Regions from separate parts of the Homo sapiens genome. Here region 2 is linked to region 1. Evidence: fine-mapped expression QTL. Tissue or cell type: whole blood. Region 1 holds a variant in brackets; the other region holds the start of a gene. All regions are shown on one strand. Distances are from middle to middle.

Region 1 (10,632 bases):
GGCATATTTAAAGTCCTGGAGGTGGGTTTATGGAGGGAACTGACAACAAAGAATACTATATACCACAAAATTAGCTTTCAGAAATGAAGGTGAAATAAAGATGTTTCCAAGAAAATAAAAACAGAGATTTTTGTATTTTTAGCAGAGACAGGGTTTTGCCATGTTTGCCAGGCTGGTCTCAAACTCCTGACCTCAGGTAATTCACCTGCCTCAGCCTCTTTCTTCACTTTTAATGTGACTATAGTGCATGTTTGTTTAAGTTATTTTGTTATTTTCCATTAGCCAATTCCTTACACTGTACTAATTGCCTTTGAATTCATGTTATCATTTTATTTTAATTCCTCTCTTTGACTTTCCTGTTGCATCTTCTTTGAAATAACCAAGCACATGAAAAATAAATGTTTATATTTTCCTCAGAGGAAACTATTTACAGAATATATGCTATTTTACATGTCTTTTTACCTTTTATCTCTGCTCACTATAGCTTCCGCCTCCCAGGCTCAAGCGATTCTCCTGCCTCAGCCTCCCAAGTTACAGGCATGCATCACCATGCCCAGCTAATTTTTGTATTTTTTTGTGGAGATGGGGTTTCACCATGTTGCCCAGGCTGGTCTTGAAGCCCTGAGCTCAAGTGATCCACCTCCCAAAGTGCAGGAATTACAGGTGTGAGCCACCATGCCCGGCCTGTAGTTTCTTTTCAAAACACTCTTCTTTTCTTTTCTTTCTTTTTTTCCTACATACTTAGTAAGTTCTTCTGGCATTTTTTTCAATAGAGAGCATTGAAGAAGAAAACTTATACTTCCTCACTTTCATATTAAACTGCTAGCAAATTGTGCTCTTAGTGCTACCTTAGAAGGCAGGTTTCTACCTCTCTCTGCAATACTTGTTGACATTTATCTTAAATGGATCTTGTTGGCCCTTCTTGGGGTTTTTTTGTCTTGGATTCTCTGTCTAAATTAGTCAGATCTCAGTTCACAATGCTTTGATAATATGTGATATATTCAAGCCTATCTTTCCATCCTTTGTCTACTACCAACATATATATTTCAACCCTGTGCTCCTGCTTCTTTATGTGTTACATGCTGGGAGTTATAAACTCTGTAGATATAACAAAGAAAAGAGGCTATGGTGGAATCTTTGGCAGGCTTCTCATTCTGGTTTCCTCAGAATATTACTCCGTGCAGTTGGGAAACGGCTATCTTTTTATTGATCAATATATTACAACATGTAATGAGAGTTGAGTTCTTTTCCTGCCTATGTTAGTCCAAGCTGCTCTTGTTGATAGAATATATTTCTGATTGCATTCCCACTATTATAACAGGAAAAATTCCACTAAGATTTTGGCTTATTGTTGTTTAAAGCTCCTGTACTCTTTTTTGGGGGTTAACTTCCAAGTCTACTTAATGCTTTTTTATATTCCAGTGAATCTTTTAAATGTGGAAGAATTTGAGATTATCTAGTAGAATTTCCTATTTGATGAAGATATGGTACAGAGGTTAAATTAGTATTCTATAGGCTCAACCAAATATTGTAAGATACAAGCACATTTTCTGATTACTAGTCCATTGCCCTTGCCATTGTTTCATGTTAAATCTTTTATTATTTGAGTTTGTCAATAATTCCATTAGAAGGAACACTAATATAGAAGTCAGCATATCTAGATTTTAGTGACAACCATGTCAATAATTAGCTAAATGATTTTAGAAGTCACTGAACCTTATGTGTAATTACATCACGTATCATATAAGCCAGAAGATCCAGGTTTTCTTTAGGATCTTTTTCACTTGTAAAATTCAATTTCAAGTTGTTTTGATTTCTAGGGTGCCGAGCAAAGACTATCTCAAGTTTTGTTTAGAGGTACTAGGTAACACAAAACCTATACTATACGATTCTTTCCAACTCTTTTTCTTTGATATATTCTATTGAAAGAATTATAGAATATCTGGGTCAGCTGCATATGTGAGGTTGGGTATACATTTGAACAAATTCCAAAATACTTTAATAGAATAAATGTTGTAGAAATGATTTTTTAAAAAGAATAGTAATATCACGTGTTTATTGAATATTTGTTAGGTAAAATTCTTACAGAATTTTTAATAAAAAGGTGCTGTGGGAGGTTAATTAAAAAGGACACTTGGTGCCAGGTGTGGTGGCTCACGCCTATAATCCCAGCACTTTGGGAGGCCAAGGCGGGTGGATCACTTGAGGTCAGGAGTCAAGACTAGCCTGGCCAACATGGTGAAACCCTGTCTCTACCAAAAAGTATAAAAAAATTAGCCAAGTATGGTGGCGTGCGCCTGTAATCCCAGTTACTTGGGAGGCTGAGGCAGGAGAATCACTTGAACCCAGGAGGAAGAGGTTGCAGTGAGTTGAGATGGCACCCCTGCACTCCAGCCTGTGTGACAGAGTGAGACTCCACCTCAAAAAAAAAATAAAAATAAAAATAAAAAAGGACATTTGGGTCAGGCACAGTGGCTCATGCCTGTAATTCCAGCACTTTAGGAGGCCAAGATAGGAGAATTGCTTGAGCCTAGGAGTTTGAGACCAGCCTGGGCTACAGAGTGAGACCCCATCTCTACAAAAACCAAAAAAATTAGCCAGGCATGGTACCACACACCTGTAGTTCCAACTTCTTGGGAGGCCGAGGCAGGAGGATCACTTGACCCAGGAGGTTAGGGCTGTTAGTAAATCGTGTTTATACCACTCAACAATGCATGAAGCCTTTGGGCAATAGAGCAAGATACTGTCTCAAAAAAAAATATTTCTTGCATGCTCAACATCATTAATTATAGGGAAACGCAAATCAGAACCACAATGAGATGCCACTTTGTGCCCACTAGATTGGCTGTAATCAAAATGATAGACAGTGGCCAGGCGCGGTGGCTCACGCCTGTAATCTCAGCACTTTAGGAGGCCGAGGTGGGTGGATCACCTGAGGTTAGGAGTTTGAGACTAGCCTGGCCAACATGATGAAACCCTGTCTCTATTAAAAAATACAAAATTAGCCAGGTGTTGTGGCACGCGCCTATAATCTCAGCTATATGGGAGGGTGAGGCAGGAGAATCACTTGAATCCGGGAGGTGGAGGTTGCAGTGAGCCAAGACCATGCCATTGCACTCCAGCCTGGGCAACAAGAGCAAAACTCCATCTCAAAAAAAAAAAAAAAGAGAGTAACAAGTGATGGTAAAGATGGAGAGAAATTAGCATCCCTGTACATTGCTGGGGAGAAAGTAAAATTGTATAGCCAGTTTGGAAAGCAGTCTGTCAGTTCCTGAGAAAATTATAGTTATTATATGACTCAGCAATTTTACTTCTAGGTATATACCCAAAAGAGTGGAATAAATACATTTTCACACAAAAAACGTGTATATGAATGTTTATAGCAGTATTATTCATAATAGCTCAAAATTTGAAACAATTTATTCACTAATAGATGAATGGAAAAATAAAATGTGATCTATTCATATAATGAAATATTATTCAGCAATGAAGCAGAATGAGGTACCAATAAATGCTACAATATGGATCAACCCTGAAAACTTATGCTATGTGAAAGGAGCTAGTCACAAAAGACCACATATTTTATGGCTCCATTTATATAAAATATGTGGAATAGGCAAAGTCCACATATTTTTCAGAAACTGGGGGAAGAGGGGAGTCAGTAGTGATGGGTAATGGGTGTGGGGTAACTTTTGTGGGTGATGAAAATCTGTAGTGATGGTTGTACAAATTTGTGACTAAAAAGCACTAAATTATATATTTCAAAGGGGTAAGTTTTATGGTAAATGAATTATATTTCAATAATGTTTTAAAACCTCAAAAAATTATATCTTCCTACCAATCCTGACATAGTTGACCCCATGAATGTACTCTTGAAAACATAATAAATGAAAACCTACACTACTGCCAAAGATTAAGATTGGCAGAAAAGTGATTATGAGAATATACAAGGTTTTTTCACTAACACTAAGGAGAGAGCCGGGATGAGAAAAAACATAAAGCACATACTTTTCCTCATAAAATAAAATCAGTTCTGGTCCTTGAAAAAGAGAGAAACTTTTTCTCCTACTATTAACTCCCCTTGATTGAAATGAGGTTTGTAATAATCAGAAGGCTCTATAGCCATCTCATTACTTGTTTTTAAGATGGCCATAATACTGTACCAACCCATTTCTATTTTTTTCTATATTCACAATGTAAGAGTAATGGTAAAATAAGTGCATTGCAATTCTTGGATATATGATTCCCCACATAAGTGAGGAAAGAAAGTATCTTGATAACATTATGTGCTGGAGATTATAATCACAATGTTTTTTTAAGGAATTTTAAGGCTAGTTAATAAAAGGAATTTTTATCAATTAAAAATAAACGAATAGGATCTTATATTTCTAGATGAGATGGAGTAACTGGACAAAATTTAACCTGCTGCCTGAAATAATAGGAATATGTGAAACAAGTGGTTTTTAAGACATTGGGCATTGGGCAACAAAGGACATTGTTTGCTGAGAGACATTAATCAAACAAGGTTGGCCCTATTATGGTCTCAGCTTACTGCTGTGAGAGACTTTCCAGGCTCTGTCACACAAAAGAGGAACAGAGGTAAGCACTCAAAGACTCATGACTTGAGGAGACATTGATGATAGTCTGTAGAGACCAAGGTCACTAGATATCACAGGGTGCAGTACTGAAGTGGTGAGAGTCACTACAAGAACTCCAGAGATCTGCAGAAGATCCTTGTCATGTTTACAGTAGAGTACTAATCAGTATATGAATATGAGGGAGCTACCCAAGGCTAGGAAAAGAACCACTGAAAAGGTTTAGAAGAGGGAAGACTGTACGCAGTTCTCACAGGAATAGGAATAGTGCCTTTTGCCACCTACCAGACTAGAAAACCTCACTATTTATGGGGCATTGGGTACAATGTTTTAAAAGATCTTGCATCAATAGTGTGGAATCCTTAGCCCTAAACTTAAATGGTCCTGTGGTTCTGTCTGACATATCTTAAAAGCAAGACCTGAAAGGATTAAATCGTTTCCAATTTAACTGCAACCCAGAAAAAAAGCCCAGGAATCTTTATAGTAATACAAACATGTTCAGCACCTCACAAGATAAAATTCACAATATATGACACCCAGTAAAAAAAACTAGCAGGCATGGAAACAAGCAAAAAAAAAAAAAGACTAAAATTGTAAAATTGATGGATAAGGATACCAAAACTTCTTATAAGTGTATTCTGTATGTAAGATAAAGCTGGAGAAAAGATCAAACATGTTAAGTAAAAAAATGAATAATATAGAAGAAATCCAAAACAAACTTCTGGTGCTGATAACTATAATGTCTGAGATGGAAAACACAAGAGATGGGATTAACTAGAGGACATATCTTGTAGAAGAAAAAGATTGGTGAATTTGAAGAAATTACAATAGAAAACATTCAAAGGAAGGCATAAAGAGAAGAATTAATTATTAAAAAATGAATAGAACAGCACTAAGCTGTGGGACACCTTCATAAATAACAGATGTGCATCACTTGTATTCAACTATAAATATAGCATAATATATTTGTAATGGGACCCCTTTAAGGAAGGGAAGGCAGAAAAAAATCATAGCTGAGTTTTTCCAAATTTGATGATAGCTTTAAACCCAGAAACTGAAGAAACTCAAACCAAAAACCAAGAAACATGAAGAAAACTACGTCAGTGTAGGTCACCATCAAATTGTTCACAAATAGTAATAAGAGAAAATCTTGAAAGCAGCTTGAGGAAAAAAAAGACATATGACCTACAGCAGGGGTCCCCAACCCCTGGGCCATGGACTGGTACCAGTTGTGGTCTGTGACCTGTTAGGAACTGGGCC[A/G]CACAGCAGGAGGTGAGTGGTGGGCAAGAGAAGCTTCATCTGTATTTACAGCCACTCCCCAACACTCATACTACTGCCTGAGCTCCACCTCCTGTCAGATCAGTGGTAGCATTAGATTCTCACAGGAACACAAACCCTATTGTGAACTGTGTATGTGAGGGATCTAGGTTGTGCACTTCTTATGAGAATCTAATGCCTGATGATCTGTCAGTGTCTCCCATCACCCCCAGATGGGACCATCTAGTTGCAGGAAAACAAGCTCAGGGCTCCCCTCATTCTACATTATGGTGAGCTGTATAGGCCTTGTATCCAAAATGTATAAAGAACTTCCAAAACTCAATAATAAGAAAACATATAACACAGTTTTTAAAATGGCCAACGAGTTGAACAGACATTTCACCAAAAAATATAAAAGGGTGGCAAATAAACATATAAAAATGCTCAACATCATTAGTAATTAGAGAAATGCAAATTAATATCACAACCAGATAACACCACACACCTATTAGAATGACTAAAATTTAAAAAACAAACTACCCCCTCATTTTGGCTAGGGATGTGGGATATGTGGAGTACTTATTCACTGTTGGTGGGAATGTAAAATGTTATAGCCACTTTGGTAAACAGTTTGGCAGTTTTTTAAAAAAATTGAATACATACCTACCATATGATCCAGCTATTCCACTCCTTGGTATATACCCAGGAGATGTAATGACATAAGTCTGTGTAAAATTTCTTATATAAACGTTCATAGCAACATGATTTGTAATAGCTAAAAGGTAGAAAAAAATCTAAATATTAACCCAAGAGTAGGTAAATAAAACCTGATATCTGTATAATGAAATACAATTTAGCAATAAAAGAGAACGAACAATTTAAACATGCAAACAATGAGTGAATCTGAAAATTATACTGAATGGAAGAAGCCAGACAAAAAAGAATACATAGTATATGATCTTATTTATATGAACTTCCAAAAATGCAAAGTAATCTATTGTGATTGAAAGCAAATCAGTCATTGCCTGGGATCCATGGAGTTGGGTAACATGGAAGAGTGGGGGGAAGCACTATAAAGGAGCAAGAGGGGCTGAAGGCAGTGGCTCACACCTGTAATCCCAGCACTTTGGGAGGCTGAGGCAGGTGGATTAGTTGAGGTCAGGAGTTTGAGACCAGCCTAAGCAACATGCTGAAACCCCATCTCTACTAAAAATACAAAAATTAGCTGGGCATGGTGGCATGTGCGTGTAACCCCAGCTACTTGGGAGGCTGAGGCAGGAGAATCTCTTAAACCTGGGAAGTGGAGGTTGCAGTGAGCCAAGATCATGCTGCTGCATTCCAGCCTGGATGACAGAGTGAGACTCTTTCTCAAAAAATAAATAAATAAATAAATAAACAAACAAATAGTGGGAGAGGGCAAGAGGAAACTTTGGAGGTAAAGGATATATCCATAATCTTTACTATGTTAAGGTTTCCACAAGTATATACATACGTGTGACAAAATGATCTAATTATGCATTTTAAATATGTGCAATTTGTTGTATGCAAATTACAGTAAGTTCTCACTTTGCATGGTTCCAGTATGCAAAAATTTCAGTCAGCATACTTCAGTTAAATCTCATCCATCCCCTAGAAACCTTTAAATTTACCACAGAATATTTATTATGAATAATTGCATAAAGTAAAATGTTTGCTGCTAGCTCTTCAGTCCACACATCATTATAAATAACAGATGCATGGCATGATCAGTGACCCATCACATTACTTTTTCAAAGTCATCTGGTGATGATTTTTTTATTTTATTGGTCGTTGTTCAGTTCATGCACAGACAGCAAAGCATGTAGTTGTGTTGTCTTCTTGTCTCTCAGTAATAAATCTACATGACATTTTACCAAAATGAATAATCAAGGGAATTGGCTAACTGTGATGGTTAATTTTGTGTATCAATTAATCTGGGCCATGGGGTGCTCAGGTATTTGGTCAGTCATTATTCTGAGTGTGTCTCTGAGAGTGTTTTTATATGAAATGTACATTTGAATCAGTAGACTGAGTAAAGGAGATTGTTCTCCCTAATGTGGATGTGAATCAGTTGAAGTCCTGAATAGAACAAGAACGTTGATCCTACTGTGAGTAAGAGGAAACGACTCCTGCCTAACTATTGAGCTGGGAGACTGGACTTTTCTTGCCTTCAGACTTGAACTGAAACGTTGGCTCTTCTTGGGTCTTGAGTCTGCCAGCTTTCAGACTTAAACTATTGTCTCTCCTGGGTTTCCAATTTGCTGACTGTAGGTCTTGGGACTAATACATAATTGTATGGGTGAATTCCTTATAATAAATATCTTTATACATACATCCTTTTGGTTTTGTTTCTCTGGAGAATCCTGACTAATATAGATTTTGGATCCAAGGTGTGGGGTTCTCCTGTACAAATACCTAAAATGTGGAAATGACTTTGGGACTGGGTAAGTGTAGAGGCTGGAAGTTTTGATATGCATCCTAGAAATATATATGTTTAATGAATGATTGTGGTGAGGGCTCAGAGGGAAAACAGCAGAGCAGGAGAGAAAGCATCTATCTTTAAGAGAACACATAAATAATCATGAATAGAATGTTAGAATGGTAGAAATATGTATGTTAAAGGCCATTCTGGTAAGCTCTCAGATGTAAAAGAGGAACAGGTGGCAATCCTTGTTATAAAGGGGCAAAAATCTTGTTTGAATTATGTTCTAGTATTTTGCAGTAAGTAGAATTTTTAAGCCAGGGGTCCCCAACCCCTGGCTGCAGATTGGTATGAGCCCATGGCCTATTAGTGTTGCAGGAAGTCAGGGACCCCAAACAGAGGAACCAGCTGAAGCCATGGCAGAAGAACATAAATTGTGAAGATTTCATGGACATTTATTAGATCCCCAAATTAATACTTTTATAATTTCTTACACCTGTCTTTACTGCAATCTCTGAACATAAATTGTGAAGATTTCATGGATACTTATCACTTCCCCAATTAATACCCTTGTGATTTCTTATGCCTGTCTTTATTTTAATCTCTTAATCCTGTCATCTCATAAGCTGAGAAGGATGTATATTGCCTCAGGACCCTGTGATGATTGCATTAACTGCAAAAATTGTAGAGCATGTGTGTTTGAACAATATGAAATCTGGGCACCCTGAAAAAAGAACAGGATAACAGCAATGTTCAGGGAACAAGAGAGATAACCTTAAACTCTGACTGCCGGTGAGCCAGGCGGAACAGAGCCATATTTCTCTTCTTTCAAAAGCAAATGGGAGAAATATCACAGAATTCTTTTTCTCAGCAAGGAACATCCCTGAGAAAGAGAATGCGCCCCTGAGGGTGGGCCTCTAAAATGGCCCCCTTGGGTGTGGCCGTCTTCTATGGTCAAAACTGTAGGGATGAAATAAGCCCCAGTCTCCCATAGTGCTCTCAGGCTTATTAGGATGAGGAAATTCCCACCTAATAAATTTTGGTCAGACCCGTTGGTTGCTCTCAAACCTTGTCTCCTGGTAAGATGTTATCAATGACAATGGTGCCCGAAACTTCATTAGCAATTTTAAATTCACCCTGGTCCTGTGGTCCTGTGATCTTGCCCTGCCTCCATTTGCCTTGTGATATTCTATTACCTTGTGAAGTACATGATCTCTGTGACCCACACCCTATTCGTACACTCCCTCCCCTTTTGCAAATCCCTAATAAAAACTTGCTGGTTTTACAGCTCAGGGGGCATCATGGAACCTACCGACATGTGATGTCTCCCCCGGACACCCAGCTTTAAAATTTCTCTCTTTTGTACTCTGTCCCTTTATTTTTCAACCTGGCTGATGCTTAGAGAAAATAGAAAAGAACCTACGTGACTATCGGGGGCAGATTTCCCGATAATTAGGAACTGGGCCACACAAGCAGGAGGTAAGCAGCAGTTGAGTGAGCATTACCACCTGATCTCCACCTCCTGTCAGATCAGCAGTGACATTAGATTCTCAGAGGAATGTGAACCCTATTGTGAGCAGTGCATGGGAGGGATCTAGGTTGCACACTCCTTATGAGAATCTAACTAATGCCTGATGATCTGAGGTGGAACAGTTTCATTCTGAAACCATGGCACCCTCCCACCTTGCTCCATCTGTGGGAAAATTGTCTTCCACGAAACTGGTCCCTGGTGCCGAAAAGGTTAGGGACCACTATTTTAAGCAATGAAATTGGGTATTTAGCAGAGGTGATTTAAAAAAAAAAAAACTTTTTTTAGAGACAGGGCTCTTTCTGTCGCCCAGCCTGGAGTACAATGGCACCATCATAGCTCACTGCAACCTTTACCTCCCAGGCCCAAGTGATCCTCACACCTCAGCCTCCCGAGTAGCTGAGACTATAGGTGCATGCCACCATGCCTGGCTAATTTTATTGTTTGTAGAGACAAGTTTTCACCATGTTGCCCAGGCTGGTCTCGAACTCCTGGGCTCAAGCAATCCACCTGCCTTGGGCTCTCAAAATGCTGGGATTACACGTGTGAGCCACTGTGCCTGGCCCAGAGGTGATTTTTAAAGCCAAGTATTGAAAATATAGCATAGGTCCTCCTTACTACTTATAGTAAAATATGAGAGGCAAGAAATGAAAAAGGAATTATTAAGGAAAAAGTTTTCAGAAGATGGAGATTGGGAAAATTCTTAGCCTGTCCATACTGCACAAAACTTGTTCTGAAGAGAACACGAAGGGTGGTATGGCTGAAGAACCACTTGATAAAGAAATAGTGGGTGCGCCTCCTGGGTGTATTCG
Region 2 (9,210 bases), 33 kb after region 1:
GTGTTTTTCTTATTTCTTTTTCCAACTGAATTTTTTAACAAATTTGTGCTTACAGCCGTGTTCTTAATCAGGGATGTTTATCAGAAGCGTCTTTAGAGTTGAAGAAGAAAAGAAATACTTGACCCCCCACCCAGACATGGTGAATTCTGGACGTTGGGGACATTTGAATTCACATAGTGAATTCTGGACACTGGGGACAATTCTAGATATTTAAAACAATCTCTACAGTTGATTCTGATAATCCCATTTTTAAAAGAGGCCTATAAAGCGTCATAGCCAGGTTTTAATTCCAGACTACTTTATGATTTGTTTTCCCTTATGTATTCTGGCCCATAGTTAATGACTGCAGCAACTACTGTAAGCCAGAAATTTCTCTAGTCCTCTTTCACTCCTTCCTCTTCCTTAATTCTATTTTCAGTTAGTCACCAAACTGAAATTTTACCTCAGAAATATCTGGCTGTAAATCTCCAATGCCACTGTCTCTACCATCATTCTTACGGACTGTTAAGCAATCTCTTAATACTACAGTCTATCATTTGCACTGCCTATACAGTTACTGTTCCCTCAAAACAAGGTCAATCATGCCACTCCTTTGCTAGCCTTTGTTGGCTCTTGTGATAAATTCAACCACCTTACCATGGTACTTAGGCCTTTTACTGTCAGGTCCCAGCCTTCATCTTGGTCATGACATCCCTATCATTCCTTTATCTCTGTCCTTCCCCATACTGAATATTCCCGCATACAGAATTTCTCACTAGTGGATGGACACCAGATCTAGTATCTCTGCATATTTACACTTGTTGTTTCTTTCACTTAGAAGACCACCTCCCACCCCGAACTTCTTTGCCTGGTAAGCTCTCAGTATTTGAGATGCAGTTCAAATAACATCTCTTTGATAAAGCCTTTTCTAGTCTCTCAGTGAGAATTAGTTGCCTCATCCTCTTTATTCTCACAAAACTTTATTATTTGTATCTTTATAATGTGATTTATATGAGTCTCTAATCTCCCAGGCATTTCACACTTTGTACATCAACCAGAATGTGAGCTTTTCATGTTTTTCCAGCCTCTAGCATAGCGCGTAGCATATAGCAAGCACTCAAATGTTTGTTCAATGAATGAAAACAAATAAAGCTTCATTAGGCTGTAATGATTGAAACAGAAACAAGATATAACAGTGGCCAGCTTGTTATACTGTTGAGATCTCTCGTTTGTTTTTCTTTGTAGTCAGCCTTCCTAGACTTCATTCTCTGTACATAGCAATTTCTTACTCTTTGAGGAACCATCTACAATACCCATAGTAGTAAGTTAGATAGCCATCCAACTCTATATCTACCTATTTAAGAAGTTCTGTCTTTGTCGTAAAAACAGATGCTGCTTTACAGAAGAAAGTGCAACAATTTAGTCCATATTGGTGGCATAGTCTGTGGGATAGGTAAATAGGTATAGAATTTCAGAGTTAATTATTCACTAAAATTGGAAAAGATCTGCTTGATCATTAAATTCTATCACAATTATGTACATGATGAAGCACTAATACAGATGATGATCTTGGGTAGAAGACGAAGTCCTGTTGGGAGTTAAATTATTTTATAACTATAGCAACTATTTTATCTGAAGTTTTCCCCCTCAACTGTATGATTATGTTATAATCTCTGAAATGATAAAGTATGATAACATGAAAAAGGGAAGGAATCATATTTTAAAAATAATTTAAGCACAATTTCTTAGTAAGAAGGTATCAAATACTTGGAGTAATCCAGTTTAAAATTTCTAGGAAATCATTTTTTTTTAAGAAGAATCAGTTTAAAAATACAGATTAAATTGAATAATTTTAATTTGTATATCTGAATTACCAAATAACATTAAATAATTTTAAATATATATTTTAATATAAAATTAAAGTTTTTATTATTTTTATTGAAATAGAGAAATATATTTATGAATTTGAGATACCTATGTCAGTCTTTCATTTAGCAACTATTTTGTTAATTATTGATTTCCATATAACTTCACCATTGGGAATGTCACATATTTCCTGAAGTATATAACGAGCCCTTCATAATAAAAATATATTTTAAAATGTCTTTAGAAGACATTAAAATCAAGGTTTTCACTGTCACCCCTTTTCCCCTTTTTTCCAACCTTTTGATGATGATAAGATGTATTTTGTTATAAGTTACTTCCTTGTGCAATCAAGTAAAAGACAACTTTGGGTTGTATATGGCTCCAGCTTGAAATTGCATATACATATTCTTATAAAAATTTTTGAATTATGATTCTAAAATTACTCAGGGGAATGACTGGAGTTTTTATATAGTAGTTAATCACTTTCATTACATATATTGTTTTTTCTGTAGATTAGACATATTTCCACAATTTAAATTAATGAATTTTATTACTTTAAATTATTTTTTTTCACAGGTTTCTTTTCTAAAATCCAGGCAATGTAAATTACATATCATTATGAAACCATTGTTTGGGAAACCAGTGTGGCATCTGCAATCCCAATATTTCAAAATATTATTGGAACCAAAAATTGAACCATGCTTTGCAGTATATTGTTTGAAGTATTTAAGCAAAGGATGTATTCTTAATTATTCGAGTTACAGTGTGCCACTTAACTTTATTTCAAGCGAGGTATATTTTGGGAGAATTCTTTATGAAAATCAAGATAACTTGAATCTAGCACTTTTTCCTTATCTTTTCAAAATTAAATATTTTCAACAGTAATGCTAATGATTAGGTAAAGTGTCAGTAATAGATTGTTAAAACATTAATATTCAATACTTTACGCATAGAAATATCAGTGTATTCCATTTTTTAGTTCCACATACTTAAAAATATTATTTATTTAATGACCACCATTATAGAACAATGCATTAACTTTTTTGTATGTGACTTGGGATAGAAGTCTTAGATACTAAGTGCATTCATACTTATATTTTAATCTATATTTTTCTTCTGGAACATTATTAGTAAATTTTGAGATTATAGAACTGTTGACCCAGTCATACATGTACAGAGCTTGGCCTCCGAGTTAATTAAATATGAGTTAATAATATATTATAAGGAAATTATTGTCCTTATTACAGTTATTAGGTAGTTACTCAAATTATAGCTTGAAAGGAATGCAGAGCATGGAAAACTCAGGATTAAATTATGCATTTGAACCTTAGGCCAGTTTTTACTGTAGAGACAGTTTGCTGCTAAAAGAGAAATTGTATGTCATTGAAATTAAATGCTTTTCTGGGGATGGAAGATTCCAGTTTTTAATGAAATTACTGAGTGTGGTGTAGTGAAATGATTAAAATCTGTATTCCGGGAATGTGGCAGGGAAAAAAAATCAATAAGTGCTAGCACAGCTTTGCTGCTCAATGTGAATCCTGAGAATGAAATAAACTACTACAAAAATAATAATTAAAAACATATCAGCACATTAATTTATTTAGCATCAGTCTCCTGAGACATCATCTTCACTAATTTTTAGCATACATTTTACTCTGTAATGAGCAGCCTTCTTTTCAGATATCCCTATTAGACAGGCAGTATTTCTGCCCTTCCCCCAGTGCTCCTGCATTGCAATCATTGTACTTGCACTTATTATGTTACAAATGACCGAGGTAAGGCTGACATTCTCAGTGCATGCAAAAAGACCGAGTCTGCCAAGCTTTTTTTTTTTCCTAATGAAGCAGCTTTGTGAAATCTCCCCATGTGTTAATACTAATGAAGATCCTCCAGCACAATTAAAATCACAGCCAGTGGCTGAAGAGGAAACATAAAACAATAGCATCTTTTAAGATACATTTATCCACATATGTATAAAATATACATAGATGATCAAATTATTCTCCGATAGCTTAATTTTTACTTACTCTTCATCCTGAAAATTAAATTATGCAATTTTTAATTATATGAACTTTGAGACTTTCTTGTGTTCTGGAGGGAAAAAACGGTACCTCAACGAACTTCTAAAAAAAAAAATACGTATCTTCTTGGCTAATAAAGTGTTATCAAGATTAAGGCTTTTAAAAAAATTGTTTTTAGGAATCTATAGGATGGGGTGCGGGAGGGAATGGGGCCTATTGTATCTTTAGTTTAACTTGATTGGTTGCAGGATTTGGGAATTGGGGTTGGGGGAGTGGAAGGGTAAAAACAAAGTTGGAAGAGATTCTGGGGGTAGACCATAGCATATGACTGCATTTGTAGTTTAAAGGAGCAAAGGGCTACCAGTCTTACTCATAACTTGATTTTTAAAAAGTGTTCAGTGCCTACAATTTGCTATGCTTTTTTTCTAATCTCTCAGAAACTTGAAAAAAAGCTATCGAGATTACCTTTTACAGTGTGTGCATATAACTTTAAAACGACTATTTTAACGTCTTTTATTTAAATTTTATTTTAACTTAGTGCATAAACATTACAGCCAGTTTAACTTGTCCGTGGAAAGGCAGTAGAATTTTACCCCGGGACCGTCTTGCATACTGCTTTTTTTGAGTTTTAACATCCGCAAAATCTTGGCATATTAATTTAGTTGGGTTGTAGAATTCTGAGTTTAGGAACAAAAAAAATTTAGGTGGAGATGGTTGACCTATGCTCCCTACTCTGTAGCTTTTGTTTTTTTAAAAACTAAGTTTTAAATCCCGTTTTCTGTCCTGTCTTCTTTAAAAGCAAAACAAAACATTTTAAGTTTCTTAACTTTTTCCTGGGACAAGGAACGGTGCAAACTCAAAGCTACAGTATTCTTGGAAAGAAGAAGCAACCCCCTCCCTTGGCTCCTTTAGGAGCTGATAGGTCATTTATTATTGGAACTGAAATGGTATAAACAATTCTCTCTCTTTTTTTCCCTTGTTAACAGCAACTTTCATTGTTAGAGAGAGGAGAGAGAGAGAAGCCTTGTTGGTTGACGTCACTTGGTTCATGAAGCCTTCGCCTAGAAGTGAAGCTGCTGAACAAACCTTGAGAAGAATCATCTCCTGCTTCAATCTGCTGCTGGATAGGAACTAATCAGAGAGAGAGAGGCGGAAGACGGAGAAGGAGGGAGTCGAAGGCTTTCCCGATCACAAATCTCACCTCCACTACAACTCTCTTTATACTTTTCTTGCAGAAATAATAATAGAAATAAGGAGGTGGTGGGGTTTCCAAAAATCTTAACCTTCAACCATCTGGGGAAAAGGCAAAAATCCCATCTACCGCAACTCTCAGTTCGAGAGTAAAGGTGAGTTTAAAATCCTCGGGCGTGAGGGGTGCGGGTGAGGATGTAAATTCCCAGTGTTACAAAGCCGGTGGAAACAGCAGCGGAGAAACTGCGCTCGGGCAAGCGGGGGACTCCGGAGTTGCTGCGTGGAGGCGCTCGCCCCGCCGCCCTCTCGCCCTCCGCCGCTGTTTATCCTCGCCGGTCGGTGCGGCTCTTTGTTGTGGTGGCCGGAAGGCTGGGGTGGTTCTCGGGGTCCCGAGTGGAGTTTGGGGGAGGAGGACACGGAGATGTGCCGTCCTGGGTGGGAGGTGGGGGGTGCGGCCTCAGGAGAACGTAAACTTTATTCCTAGAAGCCGGTGCGGGACTTCGCTGGAGTAGGGCCGTGGGTTGTGCTCCCGGCCGGGCAGGCGCTGCCGCCGCGAGTCCGCCGCCTTTGTGCCGGCCGCCCTGGCTTCGCGTCTCCTTCCTCTTCCCCTTCGGCTTCCAGCGCTCAGGTCGCCGCCAACAGTTTTGCTTCTTAAAAAACAACCTCTGTCAGCGTTGCGATGGCCGTTCCTACCCCGGAATATCCGCTGCTCCCCCACTCCCTGCCGGGGTAGTTTCTGGATCACCCCCCACCCCCGTCCGCCTCCTGCTGCCCTTTTTTGCCTCCGCCCCCTCTTCCCTGTCGGACTGACGAGCTGCGTCTGCCACCCCCACTCCCCGGCTTGGGCCTCTAGCTCTCCCGTGTGTAGCTGGAGGCTCTGAGTTTACTGAAGATGAGCGGGGGTGGGGGTGGGGCAGGTGGGATTGGGAAAAGATCTGGATACCTGGGAAGGTCTATGTCAGCACGCAGAAGGTTTGAGGAGCATTGCTTCTCATACAGTAAGGTCTGTGCCTTGGTCTCATGTTTTAGCAGTTCTTCCCCGGGAACGACCGCCAGCTCCCAACTCCTCTGCTTCCCTCTTTTAATCTTCTTGTCGCTACCCCTCCCCCCAGCCCCCGTTCTCTTTCGCGGCTCCCTCCCCTTTAAGTAGTTTCACGAACCCCAGAATTGGGATTTGAGAAGGGGAAGGAAGTGTTTGAAGAGTCAGAGCTGGCTCTGTTGTTTGGGAGATTTTCTCTTCTTTTCTTTCTCCCTCTGTATTTATCTTTTGTCTGTTGCTTCCTTATAAAGAGGGAAGCAGCTGCAGTCCTTGGCCGAGTTGTTGAAATTTATCCCTTTGTGTATATTACAATATCCTCCATTTTTTTTCCTGCCCTCTAAACAACAAGCGTTTCGCCATCTTGGGCAATTTTATTCCCAAGTCTCTCTCTTTTTTATTTTTGAGGAAAGGAAAGAAGTATTAGGAAGTGTGTCTGGATAAGTCTCAAAGTTTAGGGAATGTTCAGGGGGCCCAGTGACGTCATGTAAACTTTACGGAGAAATTTTCCCAAGAGTAAATTTTTTGCTTAATTTTTCTCCTGTTTTATAGGATTGTGTAACTTACAGGTTACTGATAAGTTGTGTGGCTTATTTTTGTGTTTTGCTCTCAAAATCAGTATACGAAGTCTGCGTATTGTATGTTTTGGTAACAGGTGGAAGATTATATGCAAAAAATGGTAAAAAACTTGTGCGTCATTTGTTATTTATCTGGTTTTTGTGTACTTTTTTTTTTAATTTAAAGGTTTCAACTGTTATCTGTAGTCAGTATATTCCCTTTCTTATTTGCTCCACTCTCCCTTATGGATTTTTTGAAAATTAGCTTGGTTAATATTTATGTATGGTTATTTTAGATTATCTGGCTCCCCGTTTCTAATAAAATGTTCTGGGGTTTTCTTTTTCTATTATTTATTTACATTTTGAAAAGAAATGACTATGGAAAATACCTTAAGATAATGGATACTTTAAAATTTAGTAGCAGATATTAAGTCAAACAATTATTGAGTATTTAAGAGGCAGAATTGATTTTAAAAGTTATTTTATAATCGCTAGCTATAAACTCTTTGTCAGCCATTATGAACAGATAAACAAAAACTAGCACTGTTTTAATTTGCTTGTCTAACATAGTTTTTCGCCTCACAAAAGTTGGTTTGGTCACATGACCAAGCTTAATGATACACTGACTAGTATATAAATAAGAGGCACTGTATATTGAATGGGAAAGTGGAATTCTGTCTCCTGTAGTCATTTTCAGTCAGCATATTTACATCTCTTCTAACAAGGACATGAAACTGTCTGTATTTAATTTGCATTCTCTTTGTCTTCTGGGTTGAGGGAAAAACACTGACTACAATTAACTTAAAAAAAGCTAATAGAAACAATTCTGAATACATTGAAAAGGTTTGTGTAACACACAGAAATTTATGTTCTATATGGTAAGTTTTTATTTCTGTAGCAGTCTTCTTTGGTGTTATCTATTTATCCAGGAATTTGCTTCATGTAATATGCTATATAGAAAGCTTGACTGAGTTGAGTGTCTGCCATTTATGTGAATTGTAGGTAGGTGAAAAATGTTTAAATAGTTAAAAGCACATAGAACAGATGGTTCTAAATTATACATGCAACAAAGGACTAGAAGATTTGGCAGATTATAAATGGCAAGCAACAGAGGATAAGCAGTTTAAGAAAATGGTAGTTAAGTACATTTGATGTCTCACACCTATTGTAAACACTGTACATATTATTGTCACTCTGCTGCATAATCAGTAATTTGGACAACATTAAGACACTCGTATGGTTCAGATAGAAAAAAGTAATTTTTACAAGTATTTGAAACAAGTGGTTGAATTTAAAATTATTTTAAGCCTACGATGATGAAGAGTCTTTTTTTTTTTTTTTTTTAGAAAATCAGATTGTATGCTTTAAAAATACAAAGTTATTTATGAGAACTTAATATTGTGTTCTTATAATGGTTGGAGAGAAACAGGAATGGGTACATATTTTAAAATCCAGATAATAGTAGCTTCACTGTTCTCACATGTTAAACTAGTGCCGAATTGTAGTACCATTTACTCTTACAAACACTAATGAAAAAATACTTCTAAACTCTTCAGTCTTGGAAATGCATTTATTGGAATACTGCTGGCATCATTTATGAAATACTTATTAAATGAAGGAAGGATATATTTTAGTTTTAATTTTTGAGTTTTATACATAACATTATGATACTGATTTTACTTGAATATTGTTTATTTACAATTTTTAGAATAGATGGATTCTTATGCAGGTTTTTTCTTTCTAGAACAGTCTCTGAGTAATTATATTTAGCATTTTCAAAAAATTGGGAATAGCTTAAAGTATTCAACTTGGTAGAAATTTGTTTTTATTTTTTATAAGCCATTCATTTAAAATGCACATAAGACTGTAATGGAAACCTTAGAATTTTAATTCTGTTGCCCTTTCTCCCATTTCTTTGTTTGCATGTTTATTATAGAACTGCAGTGTAAAGGAGCAGATGTTTTGCCAAACATCCTGATGTGTTGCTTTTTCTTATGGGAGTGCATAACTGTTCCTTCTGATGCATCAACTTGACAGCTGGTTGATTTCATGGAGCTGCTAAGAAGCCATTAGTGGTGTCATTGAATTGAAACAGAACAGTCATTCCCAGCTTGAACTGCAATTGTTAATGTCTTTGTTGCTACTTTTGTGTTACTATACAAGATGTAGGATATCACAGTTGCATGAAAGTTCAGGATTTCTGTCTTATCTCCTTGAATTAGTGAAAGTATATTTTGGAACTTGATTACTTTTAGGTTTAAAGGTTTCTCAGAGAAGGGATCTTAAGTTGTAGTTTCTGAGTAGAACTACCAAAAGAAGAGATATGATTTAGCACAAATTAATATGGTGATTTTGACCCTTAAGAGGAATTACGTCATCAAGTTTTAGTGATTATTAATATATTTGATTTCCTGGGGGATTAATTAAGTTACCTAGTTAGGTATTTTAAGAGTTTTTTTGGTTACATAAAATTAAGTATTTTTTACCATGAAGTTTTAAAAATACTGTTGCCTTTTTAATAAATGTTAATCCATTTGGCTGTTTCTTTAAACTTTTGTTC

Evidence for each region. PIP is the estimated chance that this variant, and not a neighbour inherited with it, causes the effect.
Region 2: it holds the start of BAZ2B-AS1, and the variant in region 1 is fine-mapped to the expression of BAZ2B-AS1 in whole blood (INTERVAL, PIP above 0.99).

What each region holds. Positions count from the first base shown.
Region 1 is chr2:159,644,746-159,655,377 of GRCh38, reverse strand. It overlaps a transcript of BAZ2B not described here. Among named protein-coding and RNA genes, the nearest start is that of BAZ2B, 34 kb to the right of the region's middle. The variant A/G (reference allele first, on the strand shown) is at 5,856.
Region 2 is chr2:159,612,244-159,621,453 of GRCh38, reverse strand. It overlaps BAZ2B-AS1 (BAZ2B antisense RNA 1), which reads right to left and starts at 6,160. Exons shown (of 2, transcript NR_110588.1): 1 at 6,001-6,160; 2 at 3,412-5,704. BAZ2B (bromodomain adjacent to zinc finger domain 2B) reads left to right here and starts at 4,906. Exons shown (of 37, transcript NM_013450.4): 1 at 4,906-5,212. RefSeq lists enhancers at 4,817-4,886, 5,137-5,216, 4,844-5,370, 6,427-6,955.